4 linked regions of the Homo sapiens genome follow. The protein of the gene in region 3 interacts with the protein of the main gene of each other region in a biochemical or structural test. Each region holds a gene or a part of one and is shown on either strand. Other genes may lie near its edges.

Evidence for each region.
Region 1: the proteins of UBE2E3 (region 3) and RNF25 form a complex in vitro, tested with the Homo sapiens proteins (2 studies listed by BioGRID, with this or other methods).
Region 2: the proteins of UBE2E3 (region 3) and NEDD4L form a complex in vitro, tested with the Homo sapiens proteins (3 studies listed by BioGRID).
Region 4: the proteins of UBE2E3 (region 3) and RC3H2 form a complex in vitro, tested with the Homo sapiens proteins (one study listed by BioGRID).

What each region holds. Positions count from the first base shown.
Region 1 is NC_000002.12:218,668,852-218,676,705, forward strand, and holds the start of RNF25 (E3 ubiquitin-protein ligase RNF25), read right to left. Parts: upstream 3,152-7,854; 5' UTR 3,120-3,151; coding exon 3,079-3,119; exon of another isoform or gene 3,008-3,078; intron 1-3,007. Other genes in the region: STK36 (serine/threonine-protein kinase 36), read left to right, coding at 3,979-4,062, 4,774-4,914, 5,028-5,105, 6,492-6,622, 7,178-7,427. UniProt on the Homo sapiens protein: E3 ubiquitin-protein ligase that plays a key role in the RNF14-RNF25 translation quality control pathway, a pathway that takes place when a ribosome has stalled during translation, and which promotes ubiquitination and degradation of translation factors on stalled ribosomes.
Region 2 is NC_000018.10:58,047,218-58,054,665, forward strand, and holds part of NEDD4L (E3 ubiquitin-protein ligase NEDD4-like), read left to right. Parts: intron 1-8; exon of another isoform or gene 9-293; intron 294-7,448. UniProt on the Homo sapiens protein: E3 ubiquitin-protein ligase that mediates the polyubiquitination of lysine and cysteine residues on target proteins and is thereby implicated in the regulation of various signaling pathways including autophagy, innate immunity or DNA repair.
Region 3 is NC_000002.12:181,053,326-181,060,773, reverse strand, and holds part of UBE2E3 (ubiquitin-conjugating enzyme E2 E3), read right to left. Parts: intron 3,082-7,448; coding exon 2,949-3,081; intron 110-2,948; coding exon 1-109. UniProt on the Homo sapiens protein: Accepts ubiquitin from the E1 complex and catalyzes its covalent attachment to other proteins. In vitro catalyzes 'Lys-11'- and 'Lys-48'-, as well as 'Lys-63'-linked polyubiquitination.
Region 4 is NC_000009.12:122,902,252-122,909,620, reverse strand, and holds the start of RC3H2 (roquin-2), read left to right. Parts: upstream 1-4,261; 5' UTR 4,262-4,511; intron 4,512-7,369. UniProt on the Homo sapiens protein: Post-transcriptional repressor of mRNAs containing a conserved stem loop motif, called constitutive decay element (CDE), which is often located in the 3'-UTR, as in HMGXB3, ICOS, IER3, NFKBID, NFKBIZ, PPP1R10, TNF and in many more mRNAs.

The sequences.
Region 1 (7,854 bases), about 38 Mb from region 3:
AAGGCATGGAAATCAGAATTTTAGGCATCATTTCTGCCAACAGATGAAGAAGTGGATTCTAGAGAAGTAAAATGACTAACCAAGGCTTAACATAGGTAGAACTAGGCCCAGAGCCAGGTTTCCTGACTCCCTGTTTAAGTTTCATTCCCCTTAGTGGCTGAATCTCTGGTCTAGAGATATGGCACTCATTCATTAGCATTAACGTTACCAATATTACTCCAACCTTTCCCTACGTCACTGTCCAGTGTGGATCCCAGTGCCTTGGCTACTGTCTACATACAGTTTTAACACCAGTCACCCTAAGCCTTCTTAAAGGAGATAGCAACCTCAACACAACATATTTAGGGTGGTATAAAGGCTGTGTTGTAATGGAAGAGCCAGCAGCCTCGGAGTTAGTTAACAGGTACCAATCACTTACAAGCTATGCAATCTGGGACGTGACCTCTCTGTAAGCTTAAGTTATCCTGTCTGTCACATATAGATAATAACACCTACTCTCTAGGGTTATTGTGAGGATAAAAGGTGATTTGTTTACATAAAGTACCTAATAGTATCTGGGCTATCGTAGCTAGTCTACGTCCTCTTTTTTTCCTGTCTGTATATAACCTTCTCCCTTAGAAGGAAAGAGGGAAGGAAGGAGGTAATAGAGTACTCTGGATGTATTTATGACCTGGCTGTCTGGTTGATCTAGATCAGCCTGTTGAGGTTAGGATCCATGGTTCTGATGTAAATCAAGGGACACACATACTTAAGCATAGAAACAGCAGTTGTAATGAAATTGAAGCTGAGTGATCAGTTTGTGTCTACAGCTCTACCAAGTGATACATGGAAAAATGCACACTTTGCTTTCTCACACTGCTCCCTCTTCATTCTAAGAGTAAGGCTGCCCCAGCACGACCTATGTCAGTGTTGTTAAGTCTTAGGCAGAAACTTCAAAATATAAAATATAAAGCTTCACACCTCACAGATAACAGTGTAGTTCTGGCTGACATGGGAGTGGGAGTCTCACAGTACTACAGGCTGCTGCACTCATTGTTGCTGTCTCCATGGCTCAAGGTGTCTCCCCTGAATCTTAAAAGTTCCCCTGAACAGGTAAACTGTAAGTTATCCCAGCGCTTTGGGAGGCTGAGGTGGGAGGATCACTTGAGGCCAGGAGTTCGAGACCAGCCTGGGCAACAAAGCGAGACACTATCTCTACAAAAAATAAAAAATTAACTGGACACGGTGGTCCCAGCTACTTGGGAGACTGAGGCAGAAGAATCACGGGAGCCCAGGAGGTCGAGGCTGTAGTGAGCCATGATCTTGCCACTGTACTCCAGCCTGGGTGACAAAGTAAGACTCTGTCTCTTAAAAAAAAAAAAAAAAAAGAAGTTTCCCTGAACACTTTGAAAACCAGTAGTCTAGATACTCTTAATAACGGCCAGTACTAGCTGGGCTCCCTGAACCAATGTAACATTGAGGTGTAGCCTCAGTCAAGTGGCCCTTCAATACTTCGCCCACCCTAGTTATATGGGTCCTGGATGGGATGGTGGTAAGGTGGTGACAACAAAATGGGGGAGGGGGGCCGGGCGCGGTGGCTCAGGCCTGTAATCCCAGCACTTTGGGAGGCTGAGGCGGGTGGATCATGAAGTCAGGAGATAGAGACCATCCTGGCTAACAGGGTGAAACCCCGTCTCTACTAAAAATCACAAAAAATTAGCTGGGTGTGGTGGCGGGCGCCTGTAGTCCCAGCTACTCGGGAGGCTGAGGCAGGAGAATGGCATGAACCCGGGAGGCGGAGCTTGCAGTGAACCGAGATTGCGCCACTGCACTCCAGCCTGGGCGACAGAGCAAGACTCCGTCTCAAAAAAAAAAAAAAAAAAAAAAAAAATTGGGGGAGTGGGGACTGAAGAATGTCCTAGTACAAAGAATCTAAGGTGTGGAGTCAGACAGATATGGATTTCTATTCATAATTTTCTATCTTTTGGCAAATCACTTTACTTCTTTGGGACTCATCTAGTCTTCCCAGGTGCCTGCACCTCAGTTATTAATGAAAAGGAGGCCGGGTGTGGTGGCTCACGCCTGTAATTCCAGCACCTTGGGAGGCTGAGGTGGGAGGATCACTTGAACCCAGGGGTTCAAGACCAGTCTGGCCAACATGGCAAAACTCCGTCTCTACAAAAAATACAAAAATTAGCCAGGCATGGTGGCACACACCTGTAGTCTCAGCTACTCGGAAGGCTGAGGCAGAAGGATCACCTGAGCCTGGGGAGGTCGAGGCTGCAGTGAGCCGTAATCGCACCACCGCACTCCAGCGTGGGCGAGAGTGAGACTCTGTCTCAAAAAACAAAACAAAACAAAACAAAAAACAGACTTAAGTATATTACAAATCCGTCGTGATCCTCTCAACTATTCTGAGGTAAATGCCACACCCACTTTTTTTTTTTACAGCTGAGGACACTGACTCACAGAAGCTAGATGGCCTGTTCAGCATCACACAGCTAATAAAATGTGGAGTTAACCCACATTGATCCTACTTCCAAATCCCAGAGTCCTTCCATGTTCTAGTCTTTGGTTAAGAATGCTTGAGAGAAGGACTAGAGGGACTTTATATGAAGTGTAAAGCTTTATTCATACAATAGTCCTCACTAGTGCTGTGTGAGAGAGAGAAGGCTGAGGAAAGCGTCGGCGGAAAAAGGCTGATCCAAGGGGAAAGGGGGCCGGAACTGGAGGGCACTGGTTCTGAGAGGAGAAAGGGAGATGGGGAGGTCTGATGGGCAGGCATCCCCCAAAGCCCCTGAGAAAATTCATTTGAGGAGGAGAGAAAGGGATGGCGTGAAGCTGGAGGAAAAGGGATCGAACCGGATGCGGCGAGGCCTGAACTGGCCTGGCGGGCGCCGACCCGTTCTCCTCTCACTCAGATCAGCGCCCCTCCACCCTCCCGTTCCCCAGTCCAGCTTTCCCAGAGATGTCAGCATCTCTGCCATCCCTCATCCCTCGCTCCACCCCACACGCCCGCCGTACGGACCGTCTGCGACAGCTGCTAGGCCTCTGGACTAGATCCAGGCTGTCAGCCAAAGCCCATGCCCCCAAAGTTACCAGTCCTCCTCCCCTGCAGCTGCAGACGCAGACGCCGCCATATCTTCACCGGCCCGCAGCCGGAACCGGAAATGCCCTTAGGGAAGTCGGAGGCGGAAAACTAAGAGGGGTGGGCAGCTAGCGTCGTTTCTAGGCAACCGCAGACTCCGGGTCCTTAGCCGGGCCTGATGGCCCTGAGGCAGTTCGGATGTGTCCCAGGAAGTGCCCATGTGTGGTCCGCCGTCCATTCCACACCTCTGAGCGCCTTTGTCCTCTGAACTTCTCACCAGTTCTAGCGAGTAAAATTGTAAGAAAGGGAGCCGAAAGAGACCGGAGGGAGAGGCGGGTGGAGAAGAATTATAAGTCAGGCAACGTATGCAGGCAGCCAGAAGAGATGGGGCTAAACGCCAGGGAATCCGTCCCTTGGCCTGAGGAGCTTGGAGCTCCTAGGCTGGGGGTGAGAGAGGGGCTCTGGCCTGCGAAGCGCACGGGCCAGGGGGTCTGAGAGCGGGTGCTGAGGAGTCTGGGAGTGGCAGGAACTTGGGGGAGACTCAAAGGAGCAGGGTTGGTTGGGCGAGGCTAGGTTGAAAGAGTAGGGTCGAGTGAGCCAGGCTGGGTGAGGGAGAAGGGGAACCAGGTGTTAGTTGGGCATGGGGCCGGGTTGGGGACAGGAGGATGAAAGTGGGGAGGAACTACAAAGAGAAGCTCTGTTTGTTCCAAGAGCGCATCATCTTTGCATGCATTCCACCCTCCCATGTTTTTTGAGGCTTTATTGTGAAAAAGAGGAAAAGGCAAGGTGGCTAACATTTTTCCTTTCCCGTGCCCCAACTAGGCGTCCCAGATGTTGTGGAACTGTCCCTGGATCTATAGCTCTTCACCGTCTCTACTTTCTTCCTTCTAAGAGATCCTGAAACCTCTGTCATGGAAAAGTACCACGTGTTGGAGATGATTGGAGAAGGCTCTTTTGGGAGGGTGTACAAGGGTCGAAGAAAATACAGTGCTCAGGTGTTGCACAAAGAGGGATACCTTTTGGGTGGGATTTGGTACCCCCAACTCCAGTGGAAAATGGATCTAGAAGGAATGTATTTATACCAGTTTGTATTCCTAAGGTACTGACTCCCTCATACTTCTTATGGAGTATAAGCTTTGAAGTTGGATTATTTGGGTGCAAATTCCATCTCCACCGCTTTCTAGCCCTAGAATTATGGACAAATTACTTAACTTCCCTATGTCTCAATTTCCTTATCTCTAGAATGGGGATAAGAACAGCAACTGATTGATGGAGTTTGAGGATTAAATATGTTTTCACATTAAATCACTTAGTACAGTGCCTGGCTGTTAGTAAACAACAAATATTATTAGTCTCTAGCACACCATGTAATAAGAGGTAAACCACTTGAACTCTATTATTTCCTCTTCATTTTTTTTTTCCTTTCCTTTCTCCTAAATCTCATCTTGAGTGCTGGTCAAATCAGAACACTTCTTCCAGAAGGGGAAATGTTTTGCAGATGCTGTTTCCTCCTGGGATGAGGAATGGGGAAAGCCTGGATAAGGCCAGGGTACCATGGAGAAAATGGAAGCGGGAGACTAACAGAAATAATAAGAGTTACTCAAACACTCTAAAATCTGACTTCTGGAGCTCTGAGATTAAGGCTGAAATTCTAGATCTTTTCAGTAGTGTGATTAGGCGTTAACTTTTCACCTTACCACTGACAGGTCGTGGCCCTGAAGTTCATCCCAAAATTGGGGCGCTCAGAGAAGGAGCTGAGGAATTTGCAACGAGAGATTGAAATAATGCGGGGTCTGCGGCATCCCAACATTGTGCATATGCTTGACAGCTTTGAAACTGATAAAGAGGTGTGCTTTGACAGTTTTGGGCCCTGTCTCCCCAAGCACAAGGGTTCCAGGAATTTCCCAACCTCAGAATGCATGAATCTGGAGCCATCAGTGCCACTGCCTTCTCTCTGTAGGTGGTGGTGGTGACAGACTATGCTGAGGGAGAGCTCTTTCAGATCCTAGAAGATGACGGAAAACTTCCTGAAGACCAGGTATGCTTTCTGCCTTCAACTTCTCCCCACCTCCGACCTCTCTCCAGGTTAGAGAACTGGTAGAGCAAGCTAAGGACACTGAGAGTCTCCATTTCAAAGACTTCTGAGAAGAATATAAGAGTCTAGGTATATAGAGGCAGTGTAGTGTGGGAGTAAATTATGTAAACGTTGGAGTCAAAATATCTGAGCAGGAAGCTTGGCTCTGCTCCTTCCTAGCTGGGTCTCATTGGACAAGTTACTTTAATTTCTTTGTGCTTAGTTTCCTAATTTGTAAAATGGAGATAATAATCATGTTTGCCTGATAAGTCTATGATGAAGAGTGTTAAGTCATGTAATGTGTTTGAATAGTTAGCTATTATTAACATTATTGTTATTAGATACCTTTAGGGAAGAAGGGCCAGTGTAATGGTACCAGAAAGAGGGCAGTAAGAATAAAGGTTGTGGGGAGTCAGGATTTGGCACCAGGACGTAGTGGTTAGCAGTGGGATTTTGTTGCACATATCCTCCAGCCACATTTATTCTAGGCGTTTGTCTGTACCCAAGCAAGTAGGCCCCCCCTGGGATTCATTATTGCAGCATTCTCTTTCCTTCTGAGCACTCACCACTATTTGTAAGTAATCATATTTTTGAAATTATTTTATTTTTAATTGAATTTTATTTTTTGAGACAGAGTCTCGCTTTGTTGCCCAGGCTGGAGTGCAGTGGCACAATCTTGGCTCACAGCAAACTCCGCCTTCCAGGTTCAAGCAATTCTCGTGCCTCAGCCTCCCCAGTAACCAGGATTATAGCATGCGCCACCATGCCTAGCTAATTTTGTACTTTTAGTAGAGATGGGGTTTCACCATGCTGGCCAGGCTGGTCTCGAACTGCTGGCCTCAGGTGATCTGCCCGCCTCAGCCTCCCAAAGTGCTGGTATTACAGGTGTGAGCCACCACGCCCGACCACCATATTTGTTTTATCTGTCTTGTTTGTTTGTCTGACTACTTTTCTTGAAAAAAGGCATTTTGTCTTATTTAATAACAGGTAATGTGTATTGAATATTTACTATGTGCCAGGCACCATTCTGAGTATTATTTTGCATGCTTTAACTCAGTCCTCACAATAATCCTCCATGTAGATGGTGTTATTATATAGATTGTCACCTTAGTTTGCCCATGGTCAAGCAGATAGTAAATGAGATTCAATAAATTTTTCTTGAATGAATGAATGAGCAAATGAAAGAGTGATTAAACAAGGGGAACAATAACTAAGAAAGAATAGTGTGAAGCTCTGCAAGAAAGGGAAGGAAGAAAAGATTAGCAGTAATATTAAGAGAAATTTTTGGGCTTGTCAGCCAGCTGCTGTTTCTAACCTTTTTTTTCTTTCTTCCACCTCTTTAATTTCTAGGTTCAGGCCATTGCTGCCCAGTTGGTGTCAGCCCTGTACTATCTGCATTCCCACCGCATCCTACACCGAGATATGAAGCCTCAGAACATCCTCCTCGCCAAGGGTGGTGGCATCAAGCTCTGTGACTTTGGGTAAAGATTCTGAGCATCCATCTAAGCTTCCAGTTCCACACGGAATCTTTTTTTTTTTTTTTTTTTTTGAGATGGAGTTTCACTCTTGTTACCCAGGCTGAAGTGCAATGGTGCGATCTCCACTCACCACAACCTCTGCCTCCCGGATTCAAGCAATTCTACTGCCTCAGCCTCCAGAGTAGCTGGGATTACAGGCATGTGCCACCATGCCTGGCTAATTTTATATTTTTAGTAGAGATGGGGTTTCTCCATGTTGGTCAGGCTGGTCTCGAACTCCTGACCTCAGGTGATCTGCCCACCTCGGCCTCCCAAAGTGCTGGGATTACAGGCATGAGCCACTGAGCCTGGCCCCACAGGGAATCTTAGACCATACTCTTGACTTATTTGGGCCTCATTTTAGAACCGGAGCTAGAGGCTGGGACTGCTGCTGGGTCTTCTGGAACCTAATCAAAGGTGCTCCCTCTGCTCCGGTTTGGGATATCTCTATGTTAGGTAGTAGTGACCAGGTTTAGAATATCTTTTCCCTTTCCATTTCCATCCCATTATCTTCTGCAGATTTGCCCGGGCTATGAGCACCAATACAATGGTGCTGACATCCATCAAAGGCACACCACTCTATATGTCTCCAGAGCTGGTGGAGGAGCGACCATACGACCACACAGCGGACCTCTGGTCTGTTGGCTGCATACTATATGAACTGGCAGTAGGCACCCCTCCCTTCTATGCTACAAGCATCTTTCAGCTGGTCAGCCTCATTCTCAAGGACCCTGTGCGCTGGCCCTCAACCATCAGTCCCTGCTTTAAGGTAATGAATATTGAAAGGGAGATGACTTTTACATTAGAAATCTGTCTCCCTCTATCTCTGTTCCTTTTTCCAAATCCTTTTCCAGAGCTGAGGCGGGACTTTGCAGTTACTGAATTAATGGCTGTGTTATTCTGTTCTCGCATTGCTATACAGAACCACCTGAGACTGGGTATTTTATAAAGAAAAGAGGTTTAATTGGCTCACAGCTCCATAGCCTGTACAGGAAGGATGGCTGGGGAAGCCTCAGGAAACTTACAATCATGACGGAAAGCAAAGGGGAAACAGGCATGTCTTACGTGGTGGACCAGGAGGAAGATAGAGAAAGGAAAGGTGCTACACGCTTTTTTTTTTTTTTTGAGACACAGTTTTTTTTTCTTTTTTTTTTTTTGAGACAGAGTCTCGCTCTGTCACCCAGGCTGGAGTGTAG
Region 2 (7,448 bases), on a different chromosome or scaffold from region 3:
ATGAAGATATTTTGACCGCTATTTAGAAGAGTGACCTCATAAATCTTTTAGCAAAGTAGACACACATACCTACCACATTTCTTAAAAGTAGATTCGTATTTTGATTTGAGATTGTTGAAAAGCATGGTATGTTTGGAGTGCACTTAGTTATGTCCCATCTCATAAAGACTGTTGAGCTCTCTGCACTGCTGATGATGAAGCATTGCATGAACCCAGAAAACGGGGATGCCAAAGCACAGGGCTTAGGTGCTGTTCCTTGCGTCATCAGCAGAGGTCTGTCCACTTTGTAGAAGGTAAGGGGTTGAGATGTGGGCTTTGCTTGTGTGAATGTATGTGCTGTTTAATTTTTTCTGTGTGTTTCGGGCGGAGGTTTCTCTGGTGAGTTATAATTCATATTTACCCTGATTTAAGTCATGTCACTTTAGGTAGCCAGATTCAAAACCATCAGATGAAGGACTTTTGGTGTTAGAGGGATTAGCAGTTTAACAAAACTTCTGATTCATGGCCCAAGATCAGATTTGGTTTGGAATCAGAACACTTTGGACTAGTTTCTGCATCTGGCTTGAGTCCTTGTGGATTTCTTGTTTTATTTCTTTATTTTTGGCAATCTGTAGTGCATTTTGGCATAGTTTACTTATGAATGTTACCGCTAACTTTCTGAAATCTTTTATTCCATTTTAGAAAGGTATCATTTATTGAAAAGATTTTTCTACTGAACAAAATACTGGGATTGAATGGCAGCTTCTTATCACATTAGATATGACATTAAGTAATTTCGTTAGTAGTTAAAATGAAGCAAATGGCATAGAAATGAAGGCCAGGCTGACATAGGATAAATGGCACCTTCTCTCCTTATCCTGTACAAACACGGATAGTTGGCTACTTTTGAATGCCTCTTCTATACCAATGGTAAAAATCCGGCTTAATTGGGGCCACATTCTAGCCTAGTCACAATCAGTGGCTTGCATTATGTCCTTTGAGATGTGGCAGATCTGCTTATAGGTGCCAGTCACCACGGCTCCCTGCTGGCTTGGGGGTCTTTCTACTCATTTACATATAATTATCTACTTCTTAATCAACCATTAAGGTTAACTTTTGGCATGGATCCTGTATGCTTTTCAGTTTAAGATGCTGTCACTTTTAAGATGCGCCATGAGAGCAAAGTGCTAAGCCTTGTGCACATACTATGTCATTTAGTTCTCATGAGAACTGTGTGAGGTAGGCTGTGATTTACAGATGAGGAATGAAAGCTCAAAGAGGTTACGTGACCTGCATAAGGACACAAAACAAGTTAAGTTATGGAGCCAGCTATTTTGAATAGAAAGGCCTAGTTTTTAACATGCTGAATATCCTCCCCTTCTGACAAATGCCTTGAAAGGTCTTACTATCTAGATTATTTAAGATAATGTAAGAGAAATAAACACCACTGGTTGCAAACTGATGGCTGCTGGGCCCGATTTGACCAGGAACCCTGCTTAATGTGGTCTCTAGAGTGTTTTAAAGCTTGGAAATTTCATGAAAATGGTAAAAATCTGGCTTAATTGGGGCCACATTCTAACCTAGTTACAGTCAGTGGCTGGCATTATGTCCTTTGAGATGTGGCAGCTAGTTGTGCTATGGTTGCAGTCACCACTACTTTCTGTTGTCTTAGGGGTCTTTCTACTTGTTTACATATAATTATCCACTTCATAACAAACCTTTAAGGCTAACCTTTGGCGTGGATGCCATATTTCTTTCACTTTAGTGTGCTGTCACTTTTAAGATATGCCATTATTTCATGTACCACGAAGAAAAAATTGCTGTCAAGTTATGACATACTGTCCATCTTATGAAGCATCCTTATTTCAGAGAAGTTGAAATATGAGAAAAAGGATATTTTAGAATTGATGAATTACAGTGACTAGAAACCTGGGAAAACTCCATGCCATCAGTTTCAATATCCCCAATCATTCAGTACTTTTAAGTCAACGAGTAGTCAGATTTCTGCTTTTCTGTGTTTGAGGAAAGTGCTAGAAAAAGAGAAGTGCTCTTAAATAGGCATTAGCACAGAAGGAACTGGGGGCCTAGATCATAGCCAACTGGATGGCCGTCTGTAAGTGATTAAGAATAGTTGTTAGTTTTTAAAAAGTGGCCTGTGTGTATTTTCAAGAGATTACTTGGGAAACCCTATGTGCCATCTTTGCAGCTGTGCAAAACGGTGAGGACAAGATTGCTTTCAAAAATTGTGGTTTAGATTTTGCTTGGATCTCAAGGTGAATGCTGACAGGCCGTTTTCTGAAGAGAGAGAAGGCTTGCCCAGTCATGCCAAGTCCAAGTGCCTGTGTCGGGCCTAGATGCTGGATGGTAGACTGTATACCCAGGACATATAGGTAATGTTTGAGAAACAAATGTTAAAAGGACCTAGTTTTCATGGTGACATTTAAAATCAGTTTTTAAAATTCATGAATATAACATGTTGTTTTAAAATTTGATTATAGGGACCGGGTGCAGTGATCACTCCTGTAATCCTAGCATTTTGGGAGGCCGAGGCAGGAGAATCACTTGAGTTCAGGAGTTTGAGGCCAGGCTGGGCAACGTGGTGAAACCCCGTCTCTACAAAAAATAGAAAAGTTAGCCAAACATGGCGGCACGTGCCTGTAGTCCCAGCTACTTGGGAGGCTGAGGTGGAAGGATCACTTAAACCTGGAGGCAGAGGTTGCAGTGAGCCAAGATCATGCCACTGCACTCTAGCCTGGGCGACAGAGTGAGACCCTGTCTCCAAAAAAAAAAAAAAAAAAAAAAAGACTAATGAATAGAATTTATTTTCTTCAATGATGTAGTGTCTGTGGAATTTGTAGACATTGACATTTGAATTTTCATTATATTTAGTTTTATTAAATCAGAATGTTATGATTGTTTATTTCATTATTGAACATCAGTTTCCTTAATTTAAGGAATAAAAATAATTTTGCTCAGGCCAGACATAGTGGCTCACATCTGTAATCCCAGCACGTTGGAGGCCAAGGCTGGTGGATCACTTGAGGTCAGGAGTTTGAGACCAGCCCAGCCAACATGGTGAAACCCTGTCTCTACAAAATAAATAAATAAATAAATGAAAAAAAAATCAGCTGGGTGTGGTGGTGGACACCTGTAATCCCAGCTACTCTGGAGGCTGAGGCAGGAGAATAGCTTGAACCCTGAAGGCAGAGATTGCAGTGAGCCGAGATCGCACCACTGCACTCCAGACTGGGTGACAGAGTGAGACTCTGTCACAATAATAACAGGCTGGGGCAGTGGCTCATGCCCGTAATCCCAGCACTTTGGGAGGCCGAGGCTGGAGGATCACCTGAGGTCAGGAGTTTGAGACCAGCCTGGCCAACATGGTGAAACTCCGTCTTTACTAAAAATACAAAAATTAGCTGGGCTTGGTGGCAGGCAACTGTAATCCCAGTTACTCGGGAGGCTGAGGCAGGAGAATTGCTTGAACCTGGGAGGCAGAGGTTGCAGTGAGACAAGTTCGGGCCATTGTGCTCCAGCCTGGGCAACAAGAGCAAAACTAAAAATAAAAAATAAAAAAAGAATAGTAATAGTTTTGCTTAAAGGGTGAGGACAGTGACAAATGGTGATCCTCAGATGACTGTAGTTTCTTTACCATTACAGAATGCAATTCAAATGAAAACCATTGCATGGTACTCAGGCATTTCTTCAATGCAGTGTGTGCCCACATCACCAGGAAGCTTACTTGGGAAAGTTTGTTTTGGGATTCTGGAGTACCTCAATATATCTGGTATATTTTCCCAAGAAAAGTGAATAATCTTGGGGGGCCGAGGTGGACAGATTGCTTGAGCCCAGGAGTTTGACACCAGCCTGGGCAATGTGGTGAAACCCCACCTCTACAAAAAATACAAAAACTTAGTTGCGTGTTGTGGCACGCACCTGTGGTCCTGGCTGCTGGGGAGGCTGAGGTGGGAGGATGGCTTGAGCCTGGGAGGTTGAGGCTGCAGTGAGCCATGATCATGCCACTGCACTCCAGCCTGGGTGACAGAGCAAGACACTGTCTCAGAAAACAAAGGCAAACAAACAAAGATCACCCCAAAGAAGAACTCCCAACATATTAAAAGTCATTGAGTTTTGTACCCTTCAAATGGATGAATTGTGTTGTGTATGAATTACATCTGAATAAAACTGTTTAAAAATATTAAGAATGATTGAGTGTGACATTATTGCAGCAGTACATTGGAGTTTCTGCTAAATTACTTTTGCATTCATTTCAAAAGGAAGCAACTATGCCCATTGCTAATTTAATAACCTGTTTGCTTGTGCGGTGTTTAAAATGGCATCATGAAAACATGGCAATGTGTGATAGATTAAGAGCCAATTAAATTTTTTATTTTGAGTTACAAGATCTGCATTAAACAGATTTTATTGTTGCCCTTGAATTTCCAGTCTTAGATGAGTAGCAGCAGTGAAAAAAAGAGATCCTAACTTAAGAGTTTTCAAGCTTTTTGATGTTGCAGGTATTTGAATAAGTGGGTCTGTCTTACTGAAATATTTGTTAATTAGCGATAAAGCAAACTATATGTTGATCTTTTGGTAGTCCATGCTAAGGAGGATTAGAATAATATATAAATAATATAATGGTAATAAGTATCAGGGCAGGAGGATTAAAGAAGGGTGGAAGAAGTGTGACAAAATGTTACTTTCTGTTTTTACATTGTTTCTCTTCCAGGTCACAACTGTATTTCAAATGTATTTCATTTTCAGACTATAGGTGGCAATGTTTGTGCTGTTCACTGTTTAATGTTACTGTTGGCTCGGGTGTTGCTTGTTGCTGGAATATGGAAATGATAGCATAATTTAGAGTTGAGAATAAAAAAAACTAGATTTAGAAAACTAGAAACTAGATTTAGATTTAGTAGAGACTTTCTAAATAGTCCTAGTTCTGCTGTGTGGACCCTTCTGTAACTTTCTGTTACTCTGAGAAGGAGCTGATAATTATCACAACTACTGGTGTTTGATTAGCAGAGACATTCTTGATTCCTGATGCAAGACCGTGGCTGAAGTTGTAGCAGGGCGTTTGGTGGTTGGCGATGTAAAGATCTGGGCCTCTTGTTTCATGAATAATAGAATCTCACTATGATTGTAATATTTTGTTTTGAACTGGAGTGCTGATTATTGTAATCCCTTTAGGTGAGAAAAGCCTTATTATATAAGTGTATCTGGGGTAACTAGCTTAAATTTGACACTCCAGTCAACTTTTTGTCCCTGACTTCAGTCCTGCATTGATTCAAAACGCACCAAGTTAAATGTCAAGGCTCTCAGATTCCCTTGCTGTCATCAAATTCAGTGTTTGGTGACTTCTTGGCAGGCAGACATCTACCAAGAGATTTTGTATTCTTTTTATACCTCCTATTCACCAAAAGAAAAGGGCCATTCAAAAGTGAGTTTTTCTTTTTTTTTTTTTTTAAGTTTAAAAAGCTATGATGTGGCCACCCATGGTGGCTCATGCCTATAATCCTAGCACTTTGGGAGGCCAGGGCAGGCAGATCACTTCAGGCCAGGAGTTCAAGACCAGCCTGACCAACATGGCAAAACCCCGTTTCTACTAAAAATACAAAAATTAGCTGGGCGTCGTGGCGTGCCCCTGTAATCCCAGCTACTTGGGAGGCTGAAGCAGGAGAATCGCTTGAACCTGGGAGATGGAGGTTGTGGTGAGCTGAGATTGCAACTCTGCACTCCACCCTGGGTGACAGAGTGAGACTTTGTCTCAAAAAAAAGCTGTGATGTGAAACCTGTTCTGTGAAGGTGGAACTTGGAAAGGCTTGTAAGGATGGTGGTCCCATGAAGAGGATGAACAAACCAAGGGAACTGTCCTCTTGCTGGTTTGGGTGATGTCCCATCACCTGTCACTTTGTTTGTTTGGGCTGCAGTGGACCAATGGTTTCCCAGGCACACTGAAGTGACATGTAGATGGATTGCTTGAGTGGCTCCGGCATGTTTCCATCTCCTGTCTACCAGGCAGAGACCGTGTTCCCTGTTTTGAGGGGATCCAGAAGTGCAGTGACAAGGGCCTGATTTGCATCTCCAGCTCCTGGTCTTGCCTGTGTTAACAATTTTTTTTTTTTCTTTCCAGATGGAGTCTCACTCTGTCGCCCAGGCTGGAGTGCAGTGGTGCAATCTCGGCTCACTGCAAGCTCTGCCTCCCGGGTTCACGCCATTCGCCTGCCTCAGCCTCCCAAGTAGCTGGGACTACAGGTGCCCACCACCACGCCCGGCTAATTTTTTTGTATTTTTAGTAGAGACGGGGTTTCACCATGTTAGGCAGGATGGTCTCGAACTCCTGACCTTGTGATCCACCTGCCTCGGCCTCCCAAAGTGCTGGGATTACAGGCATGAGCCACCGTGCCCGGCCAACAATTTTTACATTCTAATTAATTTCCAGTTTCCAACCTGACTCAAGGTTTAGCTCTTCGTCTCTTGGGTGCAGTTTTGGATCATGTCTTATAATGTATATTTAAAAGTGTGTTGTAAAGCTGGAATTCCCATTGTGGGTAAATGCTGAGATTGTTGTAATACTGAGAAGTGCACTTGGGAACCATGGCCAACACTGCCCTAGCTGACCGGAGGTTGCACTGAGTTGTCCCCTTTGAACATCTGTTATGAATGAATGTTGGAAAATGCAAAGCCAATCATTTCTTTTACCTGACCTATGTGATGTTAAGTTTTAGTTTTATGTTTTGGCAAGTGAGTGTTGGATGTCACTAATGTGAGGAGGCCGGTGAGGGCAGACTTTGGGTCAGAGGTAATGTAGGAGATGAAGACCCTTTCTATTAATTTTTCTTGTTTAATTGAAGATGTTCGTGTTGAATGGGTTTTATTTACATGTATAAGTTCTTTTTTTCTTAATGCTGGAAGTTACTTTGGTTTTTCAGAAAATGCAAGTAACCCTAATCTATTTAGAGAATTACTTTGCTTAGTAAGCACTCAGTACTATTTAGTAATGGGGAAAAAATGTGTTTGTGTCCCACAGCGTGACAGGCTCCACAAACTTACTTACGAATCTCCTAACTACCCTGAGAACCTGAAGAATGGGACTTTGTGGAGAATCTTCTGCTTTCTTTGCTAGTCTCTATTTTTCCTTCTCAGTTATTAAGTGAGTTGTCTTTGGGTGTCCTCATCATGCTGACTTCATCTTGCCCAGTTTGTTTTGGGTAGAGGAAGGAGTGCAAGGTTTAAAGGAAAAGCAAAGCCTGTACAACATGGTGAGACCCCATGCCTGTGGTCCCAGCTACTTGAGAGGCCCAGGTGGAAAGATAATTTGAGCACCGGGGTTCAGGAATGCGCTGAGTAATGATTGCACCACCGCACTCGAGTCTGGGCAACAGAATGAGACCTCATTTCAAAAGAAAAAGAAAAAGCAAGACTGAATCATTTCACTTTGTATTCTCCTCCTTGCTCTCATTCCTTTT
Region 3 (7,448 bases):
AAACCTTTGAAATAGTCAAAGCGGGACTCCAGTTGTCTTTAAGGATGTCCAGACAGATGACTCCCTGACTGTTGATGTTGCAGTGATAGATTCTGGTGCGGAAAGTAACCTAAGCACAGTCACATTAAAAACAGAAGGAAAATGAATGCTGTATTACCAATTAAAACACTAAAAAAAAATGAAGGGTAATATATCATAGATGATACTAAATTATTTGACTGGAGCTAAACTTAGATTAGGTTTAATAACAAAATTAAATGCTTTTGACTCAGTTGAAAAAAATTTTTTGTTTTTACCCTGTATAGAAAGAACTAAAGTGAGGAACTGATCAGTTATACTTAAATAACTGATACAGTAATTCCATCTATGTGTGTGGGTACGTCTGTTTGCATACACATCCACAGCATATACAACTGTGTGTGTACACATACATACAGAAAGACAGAAAGTGAGGAAGAAAAGAAATGTTTTGGTGCCGAAGGTAAGAGGAACTGATGAAGATTTTTTTTTAAAACATAAAAGTTACATCAGTTTCTTACTAGAAAAGATCAGTATCAATTCAGCTAATTTCTTACCAAACGTTAGAAAATACTGGAGGATTTAGAAGACGGTTGGTAAAATCATTCACACTACCTGCCTTTCTGTTTCTTAGCCTTTTATTTCTACAGCTGGTTCACTGTCTTGTTAGGCTAAAATATTAAAATAAAATAAACAAGGTTTTTAGCTACTGGATAAAGGAAACTAATATATCCCTGAAATGTGTGAGAAAAGAAGATAAATCATAAGAACAAACACTGCCAAGTCTCAAAACAATCACAAACACTAATTGGATAGCTAATTCATAATTGGAGTTGCCGAGAAAAAAAAAAATTTCTGATCATTTGAAAACTAGCAGTGTACTGTGAGCGCAAAAGTTGAATCTGGGAGGAAAACATTAAATGCTCTCAAAAGTGTCTTCCTGAAAAGAATGCATGACAGGGAGGGGGTAGGGGACCAACACACTAGTTTAGTGGGGGAGGAGGAGAGTATGCCCCTCTAGAACTGCTCTGACCAATACAGCATATACTAGTTACATGTGCATATACAGCTCTTAAATTGTGGCAAGGTGAATTGAGACGAACTAGAAGTGTAAAATAAATACCAGATTTCAAAGAGTTAGTACCAAAAAGAAAATGTGTAAGATTTCATTAACAATACTCTTACACGGATTACATGTTGAAATGACAATATTTTTAATATGTTGGGTTAACTAATATAGTATTAAAATTGTTTTATGTTTTATGTGGCTATTAGAAAATTTAAAATTATACATGTAGATTTTACTATATTTCCATTAATGCTGCTCTAGAATATAGAAATAATTTATGTTCAGATCACTGACGTTACTGCTCAATACATATGTGATTTACAAATATATTTTCAGCTATAACTAGTGAACAGAATAGCATTCATGAGCAGATTTCTATTAAATATTTATTATCCTTCAAGAAGCTCAACTTTTCCAAACTTCAAAAAGATTTAGCATTGCAGAGAAATAATTGTTCCAAATACCAAGATTATACCAGAAATCTTATTTTTCATTTGTCCAACTATAGATCTTAATGGTTAATACTGTATATCTCAGCAACAGAGTGAACACTAAAGAATTAGATGATATATTGCAATTTCAGCAAAAAACCAACATGCTAAATTTATAATCATTATATTCATCAAAATTACGGCAAATCATATACAGTACTATATAGTGTGAAATTCTTATATTAGCCAATTTCTGTTTTTCATTAAAAGGTGTCCAGGAAAACTTAAGAGTCTTTTTCTTCAATTAATCTTCCCCATATGCAAAAATAATTTCAAGATCTTACATGCTGATGGGACCACACGGTAAAGCACTTTAAACACTAACAGCTGTAATTGAGAGTAAATGGTGTCTGCGGTTTGGGGTAAATACCACTAGATGGCACTCGTTACCTTGTTAGACAATAAGTTACTGAGAAATAACCCTCTTTTATTCACAAAATAAATCCGTTTATGTGCACATATACATATACACACAGGCTACATAAATTTTAAATGGTATAGACTGCAACATAAATTTTTAAAAGTACAGAGAACAAAAGTCACCATGTTGGAAAAGAAAAACATTTCACCATAGTTAAGGGCTATGGACTTGAAAATACACTTTCCCCTGCTATGTCAGACATCTCTGTAACAACAGCATAATAATGCTCATGCTTAATTCCAGTGGTTTTTACCTGCTGACTTGACCATTGTAGAAACAGAAGTTAGCGGAGGGAGCCATTCAAGTAATTGTTATATTTAAGCTTTGCAAAGTTGATGGTCATTAGAAGGCACAACTCACCCCGTTCTCTGTTATCCATCTAATTCATACTTCAAATGAACTCAGAGCCAACAAAACTCAGGCATTCTGCTTCCACTACTACATCATACCCACAGAAGGTACAAAATGAGTTTACTAAATATTATTAGTTTCCCTCTTCTTGGCTATGAAGTTTTTGCTTATCTATAAAGGTATTCAGCACAAAATTCACATTATTAAACCCTTATTTCTGGAAGCTGTCAAACAGTTTTACTTTTTATCCTAATACCTTCATTAATACCTTAATAGTTAATTAAGGTATTATTAATTAAGGTATTAATGAAGGTTCATAGGATCTTCTCCCTCATAAGCATAAAATTTATCTGCTTTATTGATGTGCAAGGTATAGTTTTATTTACAATTAAGAATTAAACTCTTTCTGTTTATTACAAATTATTTGTGAAAGGAGTCAATTACTGTTTTAAAATTCTTGATTATGCGAAAATTTCCATATCAATCCATGAAAAGCAATGAAATCAAAATAACTGCATCAATACACATTTAAGTTCTAGAATAACCGATTTTAGAGGAGAAGGATTAAATACTAAAGAATGCACTTCAAGCTTCTTACCTTTGGTGGCTTAAATGGATAATCTGATGAAAATGTGATATCCAGAAAAAACACACCACCTTCATATACAGAACCCGGTGGACCAAGTATAGTTGATCTCCATTCATAAATGTTATCTCCTTTAGGCCCAGCACTATTTAAAAGAAATTAAAAATCAGTATGTACATATATTAGCAATGAATGTTAATATCCTAAAACCAGGGAAGTGTTAAAGGTAAATTAGCAATCTAGAGCAATAAGAAGTAAAATAAGTATAAAAGAAATAAGCCCCAATGTGTTTGCATGTGCATGTGTGTATGAACTTACTTGGAAATATTACAAACTTACAGAGGAAATGCAAGAAAAGTACAAAGAAAATTGGTATAACTTTACCCAGTCTCCATTAGCATTCTGCTCTGCCCCATTTGCTCCTCTCTCTCCCGAAACACACACCCCTCTAAACCTGCAAGCATGCATAGAGACATACTTTTTTCTGAGTCACCTGAAAGTTGCACACGGCCTTTTCCCCATAAACATGTCAGTGTGCATTTCCTAAAAACAATCTCCTATAAATTACAATACAGTTACAATTTCAGTAAATACATTAATACAATTCTTTAAAGTACAATTTGTATTATAATGTTGTCAACTGATTCGGTAATACCCTTTTAAAAAATTAATTTTTCTCCGATGCAGGACCCAGTCTTGGAACCACGTTATTTCCTGTGTCTTTATTCTCCTTTAATATGGGTCCTTTCCGCCTTTCTTTAACTTTTATAACATTAACGTTTTTTGCAGAATCTAGTCTTCTTTTTTAAAAAATGCTCATCATTTTGAGCTTGCCATGTTTCCTCATGATTTGATTCATGTAACGCATTTCTGGCTGAAATAGTAGGTGTCTGGCTGAAATAGTATGTGTCCTTCTCATGGTATCACATTTGGAGGCACACAGCACCTACCTGTACCTCATTGGTGATGTTAAGTTTCATCATCCAGACAAACTGCTATCCAATTTTCCTACTGCTTAGTTACTATCTTTTCCCTGCAACCAATAAGCAATATTTGGACAGACACTTCAAGACCAGGCAAATATCCTGCTTCTTATCAAAATTTCTTCCCAAGATTTAGCATCCATTTGTGATTGCTATGGTTTGATCTGTCCCTGCTAAAACTCAAGTTGAAATCTGACCCCCAAACGCGGCAATGTTGGGAAGTGTCTGGGTCAGAGGGGTAGATCCCTCATGAATAAATTAATGCCCTCCCTCAGGGGTGAGTCCTCACTCTAGCAAGAATGAATTAGTTCCCAAGAGAACTCATTGTTAAAAAGAGTGGCTTTCCTTGGTTTCTCTCTCTTGCTTCCTCTTGCTTTGTGATCTCTTTGCACTTGATGCCTGCCTTTCCACTGTGAGTTGAAGCAGCCTGAGGCCCTCAACAGATGCAGATGCCCATCAGGTGAACCAAATAAACCTCTTTTCCTTATAACCTACTCAGTCTCAGGTATTCTGTTACAGCAATAAAATCATGATTTTCCAATTCTAGAACTTTCTCTACACTTAACAGTTACCCCTTGAGCCTCTTCTCCTGCCTGTACGTATGTACAGAAGTATTACTGGTATGGTCTCATTTTTTCCCAATGCTTTATAAGTCATTACTGACTTTAATTATTTTGATACCCAAATTATTGCAGATTTGGCTGATGGGGAACCCTTTCAAAATGACTCCTATATCCTTGCAACATGTTAGCATCTTTTTTTTTTTTTTTTTTAAGCATTTCCTTCCTTTGGCATAAGGAATCCCATCCTTGGAATCAAACATTTTTCCAAAGAGCCAGGGTTCCTTTCAGTGCGAATGTTGTAAGAAAAACCAAGATCTGAGTCCTAGGTGCTACTAAGTCTTAGTTACATTTTGGTGCACTGCGCTTAACACACCATTACTTTATAAAATACAAACAAGAGAGATAGTTCAAATAAAATCTAAACTCATAATTACTTGTTGGTAAGACGACTCATACGCCTTAAACTCTCCTCAAATATATTTTACTGCCAGTTGATAGAAGAGCTTGGATTCCCACACCAAATTCTTAGTTCTTAAATGTGCTCTCTTCCCACTTATCATGCTATTTGCCATCGGACAAAGTGTACATTTAACTATAGGACAAAGTGTACATTTAACTATTGCAGGATAGTAAATAACTTTTCCTATTGTCTTGGAGTAGACTAAGCAGAGAAGCTATGGTAGTATGATTACTTTGCTGTACCCAAAGACACCTAGTTTAGGACAAGTGAAGGCTAAAATCCAGTCCTAAAATCCAGGTAGTGTTGGCTACCTGTCTGGATTAGGGGCCTCTTTTCATTCTCATAAATGTACCATCTGTTAGTCAAAACATACGGCAAGATGGGAAGGGGTCAGGAAGGGACATGAGCAGTTGCAGGGCTGAGTCCACTGTAATTTAAACAAATCATATTAGAGGCTAGCAACTGACCGACACTCTCTGTCTCTTCCACTGTCTTGAATCATCATCCATTTTTCCTTCTCTGGTGAGTGATGCCAATAAGAATCCAACAATGCCCTTTCTCCCAACTTTATTATTATTTTTTAAAATCTCTATTTCTCTCTCCCTTCGAGTTTCCATCTCAATCATCTTTCCTTGACAGCAAAACTCCTTGGAAATCTTATCTACATCTGCTATCTTCAGTTTCTCTCCTCTGTTGTTACTTGAACTCATTCCCAACAGGCATTTCCTCCCATTACTCCACTGAAACAGCTCTTATCCAAAGTCACCAATGACCTCATCACTACACCCAATGATCATTTCTCAATCTTCATATTATTTGACTGGTCCAGCAACATTTGACACAGCCAATCACATCCTCCTTGATACACTTTCTCTTTCATTCCTAGAATAACATACTTTGTTAGCTTTCCTACATTTCCTGGCCCCTCGTTCTCACTCTCTATTCCTATTCCTTATCACCCTAAGCTTTAAATATCACCAGTCCTCCAGAGCTAAGACCTTACACTCTTCTCTTTTCTACCTACATATACTGTTTTGGTTATCTTATGCAGTTTTACGGCTCCCAATACCACCAATATGCTCTTAACTTCCAAATCTGTAACTGCAGCCTAGATTTTTTTTGCTCTGCAAGACAATGTCAAGAGAACAAGGCAGGCAACAGTCTTGGAGAAAATATTTGCAAAAGATGTACCTGATAAAGAACTGTTATCAAAAATATACGATGAACCATTAAAACTAAAGAAAATGAACAACCTGATTATAAAATGGGTGAAATACCTGAACAGATACCTCACACCAAAGATAAACAGATGGCAAGTAAGCGTATGAAAAACTGTTCAAACTCATGTCATTAGGGAATTTCAAGTTAAAACAAGAAAAGCATGCCACTACACACCTATTAGAATGGCCCAAATCCAAAACACCAACAACAAATGCTGAAGAAAATGTGGAGTAACAGGAACTCTCATCCATTGCTAGTGGAGAATACAAAATGGTACAGGAAATGCAAAATATCTAGATTCATTTTTATGCATCTGGATGTCCACTTTGGAAGACAGTTTGGCAATCTTGTTACAAACATAAACATATCTTACCATAAGATCCAGTAATCACACTCCTGGGTATTTACTCAAATGAACTGAAAACTTATGTCCACACAAAATTCTGCATGCAGATGTGAATAGCAGCTTGATTCATAACTGCCAAATCTTGAAGGTGATCAAGATGTTACTTCAGTAGGTGAATGGATATATAAACTGTGGTACCTCCAGACAACGAAATATTATTCGGTGCTAAAAAGAAATGAGCTATCAAGCCATGAAAAGATATGGATGAAACTTAAATGCATATTAGTAAGTGGGAGAACCCAATATGAAAAGGCTACATACTGTATGACTCCATCTATATGACATTCTGGAGGCAAAACTACAGAAACAGTAAAAATATCAGTGGTTGCCAGGGGTTAGTGGGGTGGAAGGGATGAAGAGGCACAGCACGGAGGATCTGTAAGGGAGTGAACTTTTCTGTATGGTATGAATGGCGGATATGTCACTATATATGTGTAAAAATCCATAAAATGTACAACATCAAGAGTGAACCCATATGAAAACTAGGGACTTTGCATGATAATGATGTGTTAATGTAGGTTTATCGATTGGAATGTAACAACTATACCACTGTAGTGTGGGACAATAATAGCAGGGGTGGTTGTGTGTCTGTGCAGGGGCAGAGATACAAGGGGTTTTCACTCAATTTTGCTATGAACCTAAAACTGCCCAGAAAAAGCTATTAATTTAAAAAATACAAATAAATTTTAGAACAAGCAAATATTTATATATTAAAATAAGAGGTCAATGTTTCTGTAAGTAATGGTTTATAAAAAGAGTTACTAACTTTTATAAACGAGTATGTTCCAAAAATTTGTTCTGAAATCAGGTATTTTGGAACTTGAAACACATTTGGACCATAGAACTAAGGTGGTTTAAATCCTGGTCCACAAAATTTAT
Region 4 (7,369 bases), on a different chromosome or scaffold from region 3:
TTTTTTCATTTACATTAATGTAATTTCCATTCACTATGTGTTGATAAAAATCTTAACCATCCCTAGAGTTTTATATTTCCAAAAATATGCCAAAAGGAAAACTATGACTGTATGATTATTTTAGCGAGAGTCATATTTGAGATGGTGTTCTGAGCCATAGTTCTCTAACATCTCCGTCTACATATAACACAAAACTTTTATAAATTATTTTAACAAAGATTAAAATATACTGCAGGGCAAATAATATTCTCTAAAACACAGGAACTGCTTTTCGTAAAGAAGACTGACTAGATGCATCTTTCTTTGAAGCTGTTCTAGTCCTCCTCTAGTTAACTTAGCTTTATGTAGAATTTCTACTGTATTTAATTTCTATTGAAGCCCTTCTGTATTTTAAAATGTAATATACTTTGTACCATTTATAAAAATTGTGTGATGAATGAATCACATGTTCGTTGTTATAAGTGTTAACCTTTTTTTGACAATTTTGTGGGAAAGACATTCTCCACTGAATTTTAACTTTCCTTGAGACTTTCAAGAATGCAGGTCTCGTTTGATGAAAAAACCGACTTCATAACCCAATGTTACTAGTTAGCGACATTGTGCTGAATTTCTCCTTGAACTTTTTAACTTTATATGTAAAATAACTTTGATCTTGGTCATTTGAAAGATCATTTCCAGGTCTAAAATTCCATGATTTTGTATTTAATTCTTCCTGAGAACAGAAGAGGGGAAAGCAAGAGAGGACGGTTTTGTGTCTTTATGAACTTTGTTACTTAAGTACTCCATTGGAGACATAATTTTTCTAATTAGTGGATCTTTTTCCACTGGAAAGTGTGATAGCTCATTGCTAATTTTTCATTCATAGTTCATTGCTTCCATTTGACCTAAGATTGGCCATTTGTTGGTGTGAAAATATTTTCTTTTCAGAAATAGTTTACTAGTGATTGAAGTACTTTTCTTATTTTTGCTTCCTATTATAAAATGGCGTGGGGGGAAGGGGGAAGGATGGAGATGGGAGGAGAGGGTAAAAGAATAGTACTCTGATTTTTTAAGAATTAGTATCTACTATCTTGGATATTTGAAAAAAAATTGGTTGAAACTATGTTTAAGTTTTATGTGTGCCTTGTAAGATTGTTGTAAAATTTTTTGTGAGCACTTTGAGATTTTTGCTGGGGGAGGGGTGTTTTGTGAAAGTGATGGTTATTATTTATATTATTTATTCCTGTTCAGTAGCACGGAATGATCTCCAAACATTCCTAGGAGAGTGTCTGTTTGCATGATATGTCTAAAAATTTTCAGGAAAATGGAATCTTTTTTTAAAGTTCAGGTATGACAAAGTATAGAATTTATTCATTTAACATATTCACATTTAGTTTATGTTTCTGATATGACAGAAAAATGAAAAGTGTTTGAGTTCAGCCTCTTCATTTACTCCATTTACATATAAAAGATCTTGAAAAGGTAGTTGTTACTTCGTTGTCAGAGAAAAACACTTGCCCTTTTTCCTGGGATGTAACTATCTTACATGTTTACATAAGAAATAATAAACTGGAGGTGGGAATGGAGAACAATGTGTTTTGTCTTCATCTTTGAATTTTAAAGGATACAATTTAAAGGATACAATTTCTCCTGACTATACATTAATCATTCATCTAGCAAATACTTCCTGAGTCCTTACAATGAAATATAAGTTAGGTATACAGACAAAAATTCCTGCTCTTGTGAAACATCTTAGTGAAGGGAGACAAACAGTAAACAAGTAAGTAAAATCCATGTATGTCAAATTTTGAGAAGGAATTTGGAGAAAAATCAGGAATAGGGAGTACCAGAGAAGGGGGATGGAATTGCAATTTTAAATATGGTGGTCAGCGCCGGGCGCCGAGGCTCAGGCCTGTAATCCTAACACTTAGGGAGGCCGAGGCTGGCAGATCACTTGAGGTCAGGAGTTTGAGACAAGCCTGGCCAACCTGATGAAAACCCTTCACTAAAAATACAAAAATTAGCCGGGCATGGTAGCGCTTGCCTGTAATCCCAGCTACTCGGGAGTCTGAGACAGGAGAATCCGTTGAACCTGGGAGGCAGAGGTTGCAGTAAGCCAATATCGCACCGCTGCAGTCAGCCTAACTGAGGGAGCAAGACCCCATCTCAAAAATAAATATGGTGACCAGGACACCTTTGAAAAATCTCGGATTATCAGAAATATATATTCTTCTGTCTAGTGAAATGTAAATATATCCAGTAGAATAGAAAAATTTGGCCTGGACTGGTGGCTCACGCCTGCAATCCCAGCACTTTTGGAGGCCGAGGCAGGCGGGTCTTCTGAGGTCAGGAGTTCAAGACCAGCCTGGCCAACATGGTGAAAACCCGTCTCTACAAAAATACAAAAAAGAAATTTAGCCGGGCATGATGACGGGTGCCTGTAATTCCAGCTACTGGGGAGGCTAAGGCAGGAGAATTCCTTGAACCCAGGAGGTGGAGGTTGCAGTGAGCTGAGATCACACCATTGCACTCCAGCCTGTGTGACAGAGTGAGACTCCGTCTCAAAAAAAAAAATATGTACATATATGTATATATAATGTGTATGTTTATATGTGTATATATACTTATATGTATCTATATATGTGTATATATATTTATATGTATGTATATATGTATATATGTGCATATATGTATATATGTGTGTATATATATATATACACAGTAGGGTGGAAAACAAATATGTACATGTAAATTACCTATCACTGTCCAGTTGAAATTACTGAAACAATTATTGGTTGTTAACAGTTCTCTAGGCCTGGCATATGTTTCATAAAGAGAAGAGAACGAAAAAGATAATGTGTGGAAGAAACGTCTTCGATGTGGCCAATGAATCTTTTTTCAAAAACACTGATTTTTGCCTGTCATTCAGACAAATATAATAGGTAATAACTATATATTTTGTTAAAACTGTAGAAGCAACCTTTCCATATTCTAATTTATCGTAGGTTTACTTCGATATTTTTGTTGTTGGGCATCTGATTTCACATTGGAAAGTGCCTTGAGTTTAATTACAAGTCATGGTCATTTTTTTTCTTCTTTTTTTTGTTGAGACGGAGTCTGGCACTGCCCCCCCGCCTGGCTGTAGTGCAATGGCGCGGTCTCGGCTCACTGCAACCTCCGTCTCCCGGGTTCAAGTGATTCTCCTGCCTCAGCCCCCCGAGTAGCTGGGATTACAGGTGCCCGCCACCACACCCGGCTAATTTTTGTATTTTTAGTAGAGCCAGGGTTTCACTATGTTGGCCAGACTGGTCTCTAACTTCTGACCTGGCGGTCCACCCGCTTCGGCCTCCCAAAGTGCTGGTATTACAGGCATCAGCCACCGCGCCCGGCGTCATGGTCATTTTCTAGCCTACATTCTTTAGTTTCTCATCAGTAACAAGGGGTACATTGTATCTGTCTTCTAGGATCACTTTGCTAATTAAATGAAATGTAAATAAAACTAAAATATTTAAAATTAAATATCACCTAACACAGGACCTGCCTGACACATACTAAGTAGTTTATAAATGTTAATTCTGATATCCCTATTCCAAGTCTGTTTCATCTATAAATTATAAACTGTAAGAATAATTCTTACCTTAGTTCGCTGTGTAAAAAGCTTCAACAAATATTTGAGATATGATGCCAGAATTTGTGCTTAAATTTTTTATTTTTGCCAGCTTTTGAGGAGCTCAGAGCTTTCTTCCCCCCCTCCCCCCCCCACTTTGGACTCTTTGTCTAGAAACAGAGTTTTCTCTTTAATAAAGAAGTGAGATGTGGAAGTGCCTGCCAAATACATGTTTTCTTCTTGTTTTTGTAATGGGGAGATTACTTGACATCTTTGTAAAGGGATTGAGGGATCCTGTCGGCATGTCATCACAGGAGTGTGAAGAAGAATGTGACACAGATGTATCAGATTCTGCTCAATGGATTCCACGCTTTTCACGAAGGGAGTTAAGACACTCGCTCAAACCAGCGTCTAGGAAGCCGGCTCAAGGCGCAGATGAATGTGCAGGGAATTTCCCATCAATCCCTTCGGCTTGCCTAGTCCTTCTCACAGTACCTCCCACAGTGCTCCGGGGCTCCCTTGTCACGTGATCGGGGTGGATCCGCTGAGGCAGAGGGAAGTTGATTCGCAGTTTGGGTGGCTGGGGCTACTACGCTTTCCTTCCAACTCCCGACTCCCGGGCTTGCGTAATCTCGCGTTAAGTGGGGAGTAACTTCTCGCGAGAGCTAGATCGGGATCCCTCCAGGTCCGCCTCCGTGGTGAGGAGGAGGAGGAGGAGGAGGCGGAGGTGGAGGGAGGAGGAGGAGGCCCCGTCGCGGCCTTCGCCGCCGCCAACGGGGCTGTCCCTGTAGCTCCCGATGGAGTTTGAGGTCGTGAAACCTCCGCCGAGCTCTGCCCCGGCGAGACGAGGCGCCTCCGTCGCCAAGCCGCGCCGTCGCGGGGCTCCCGGGAGCGGCCCTTAGCGACCCCGCCCGGGCCCCCTCAGGTAGGGCGGGGGCGGGCACGATGCGGCTCGGGCCCCAGCCCGGGTGCCTGGTCCCCGGCGGTCGGGCGGGAGACCAGTCTCAGCCCTGGGGCCTGTGCGCTGTCGCCCCTGGTGCCTCGAGGGTTGGGAACTGAGGGCCGCACCTGACACTCGGATGGAACCCGGGCCCTGCGGAGGCCCCTCTCTCTGGTAGGGCTTTTTCGATGCGGAGCGACCGGCTCAAATGGCCACCTTCCTTCGACACTGGCCGAGCGGACGCCTCTGACCCCTAACGAACCCACCCAAGCAAAGGCCCGGCTTCACTCTCCCTTTTCTACACCAGTTAGTAAGGGGGTTTGGAAGAGGTCCTCGAAACCAAGTCTTCTCCTAGCTTTTCAGCTTTCTGCCCTGGGGCTTCCCGAGACCCTAGCGTAGAGGGTGGTGGAGGCGATCTGAGTGGTAAATAGGAACCCCGGCCAAACAATGCCCTGGGAGGGCTTAACCTCCCAGGATGGGGACGGCCGGACCTGAGTGGTTGCACAGGGGTTGTGGCTAGGAGCAATGGCATGAAACACAGCCAGGAAATTCTGCTATGGCTTTCTTCTTTCCCTCTCTCATTTTTCCTTTTTGGTGTAGCCTCTTGAGGAGACTCTTCCACCATCTTAGAAGAATGGTAGAAAGCATCTTTGTTTCCCAGAGAAGCAGCTGTACTTTTTTCTATCCTTAGCTTTCAGGATGGGAGAAGATGAGGGTAGCTGTCATTTCCATCCTTCAAATCCCAAGGCAGCCGTTTAAGATACCGGCAGATAAATCCTTCACACCAAAATTGACTCAAGTAATCACTGGCATAAAGTAAATCTAATCCAGTGATTTATTTATATTTTCATAACCCTTGGGTTCCCTTTTTAATTCCTCCTCTCCCCTTACCCACGGCCTTCCTTTTTTTCATTTCTACTCTCCCCCTACCCATTGTGGGTGGGTGAGTTTGTATCCCAAATAAAGTGCTTTAAGTAATCTTTTTTCCAATTTTGTATTGGCCAAACTTTTAAGTTCCAGTAGGAACTTTTGGTTAACCTGAGAAAGCTAACGTTGCTATACCACAGTGGTATAAAGTCACTCAAAAGCAAAGAAACAAATGTTAGCCAGTGCAGCCTTTTAATGGTTAAACATACAAACTTAGTTAAAAGCTTTTTACGATATTAAGAATATTAATAGATTCTCCTTTTTAAAAAACCTTTTAGCTGTCTAAAAAGCTATACCACTGTTGTAGCTTCACATGCCTTTCTTACGTTGTTTACTTCCACGTTCAATTTTTGAAGAAATAGAGGTCGTTACATCCTGTTAAAGACTGCTTTTCAATATTGACATTTTCGTTGATTTGGAGATTAATGTTTTCAAAATTTTAGAGTTTGGAAAATTGCTAGGAGGACAGAATGTGAAACATATTCTAGTTACGTTTAGAAAAAGCAGATGTTATAATTCAAACAGGCACTTGTTCTATGAGGATTTAATTACACTCGTGTTCATTAGTGGATCCTTTGAGTTACCCCTGATCTGTTATTTCTGTTGTGGTAACCTGACATGTAAGAAGACTTACGTCCTTTGTTCATATATTTTTGTTAAATCATACTCTGCTTTTGTAATTTGCTGTCTTCCACTTTGAAAAAACCAAAAATTTGCATTTTGGCAAAGCATTCTTCTTTACACTCAGGATTTTATATTCAAAAGTTGAACTTCTACATTGTTTGCAATAGCTAAGAACGCTAAAAAAAACTTCATAACAAGGTTTTAGTAACTACTTACTGTTTAGTTTGTACCGTGTTGAAGTTTCACTTTTTAGTGATGGAAAAAGGAAGCATGGGTAAAATAAAGCTAGCTGAAAATTAAAAATAAGTTCATGTTTTGCATCCAGTCTCATGAATGTTATGATCAGCGTCTCTAATTTTACTAAAGCTTTAAGTGTAAGTGTGAGTTTTACCTCAATTTCCTGATAAAAGTTCTAAGTATTACTTTATAATTTAAATATTCTAGAGTTGCACTGTCCAGTACTAGCCAGTGGCCACATGTGACAGTTGAAGATTTGAAATGTGGCTTCTGTGAATTGAGATGTGCTTTAGGTGTAAAATACCAGATTTCAAAGACTTAGTACCAAGATTTTTTTTAATATCTCAGTAATTTTAATATTGACAACATGTTGAAATGATATTTTGTATAAACTGGGATAAATAAAATATATTACTAAAAATAATTTTAGCTATTTTAACTTTTTTTTTTTTTTTTTTGAGACAGTCTCTCTCTATCACCCATGCTGGAGTGCAGTGGCACCATTCGGGTTCACTGCAACCTCTGCTTCCAGGTTCAAGCAATTCTCATGCCTCAGACTCCTGAGTAGTTGGGATTACAGGAAGGCACCACTACACCAGGCTAATTTTTGTATTTTTAGTAGAGATGGGGTTTTGCCATGTTGACCAGGCTGGTCTGGAACTCATGACCTCAAGTGATCCACCCACCTCCCGCCTCCGCCTCCCAAAGTGCTGGGATTACAGGCGTGAGCCACCACGCCTAGCCTCTTTTAACCTTTTTTAATGTGACTACCAGAAAATTAAAAATTACTCGGATTATAATGGCTCACATATTTCTATCGGATATTACTGTTGTAGATCAGCATTACTCTTCCAAGAAATATGTTAGTGGAATAAAAGTAGATGTATAAAAACCCAAAACTTCCAGATAGATTATCCTGTTACAATCAGAATAATTAAAGAGCTAAGGACTTTGGTAATATGAAGGATGAAGTTATCCATTGGCTATGATTTGATAGGCAGAAGTAAGTTCTATCTCAAAGAAAGTATTTTTCTCGTCATCACTAATATTAGTTA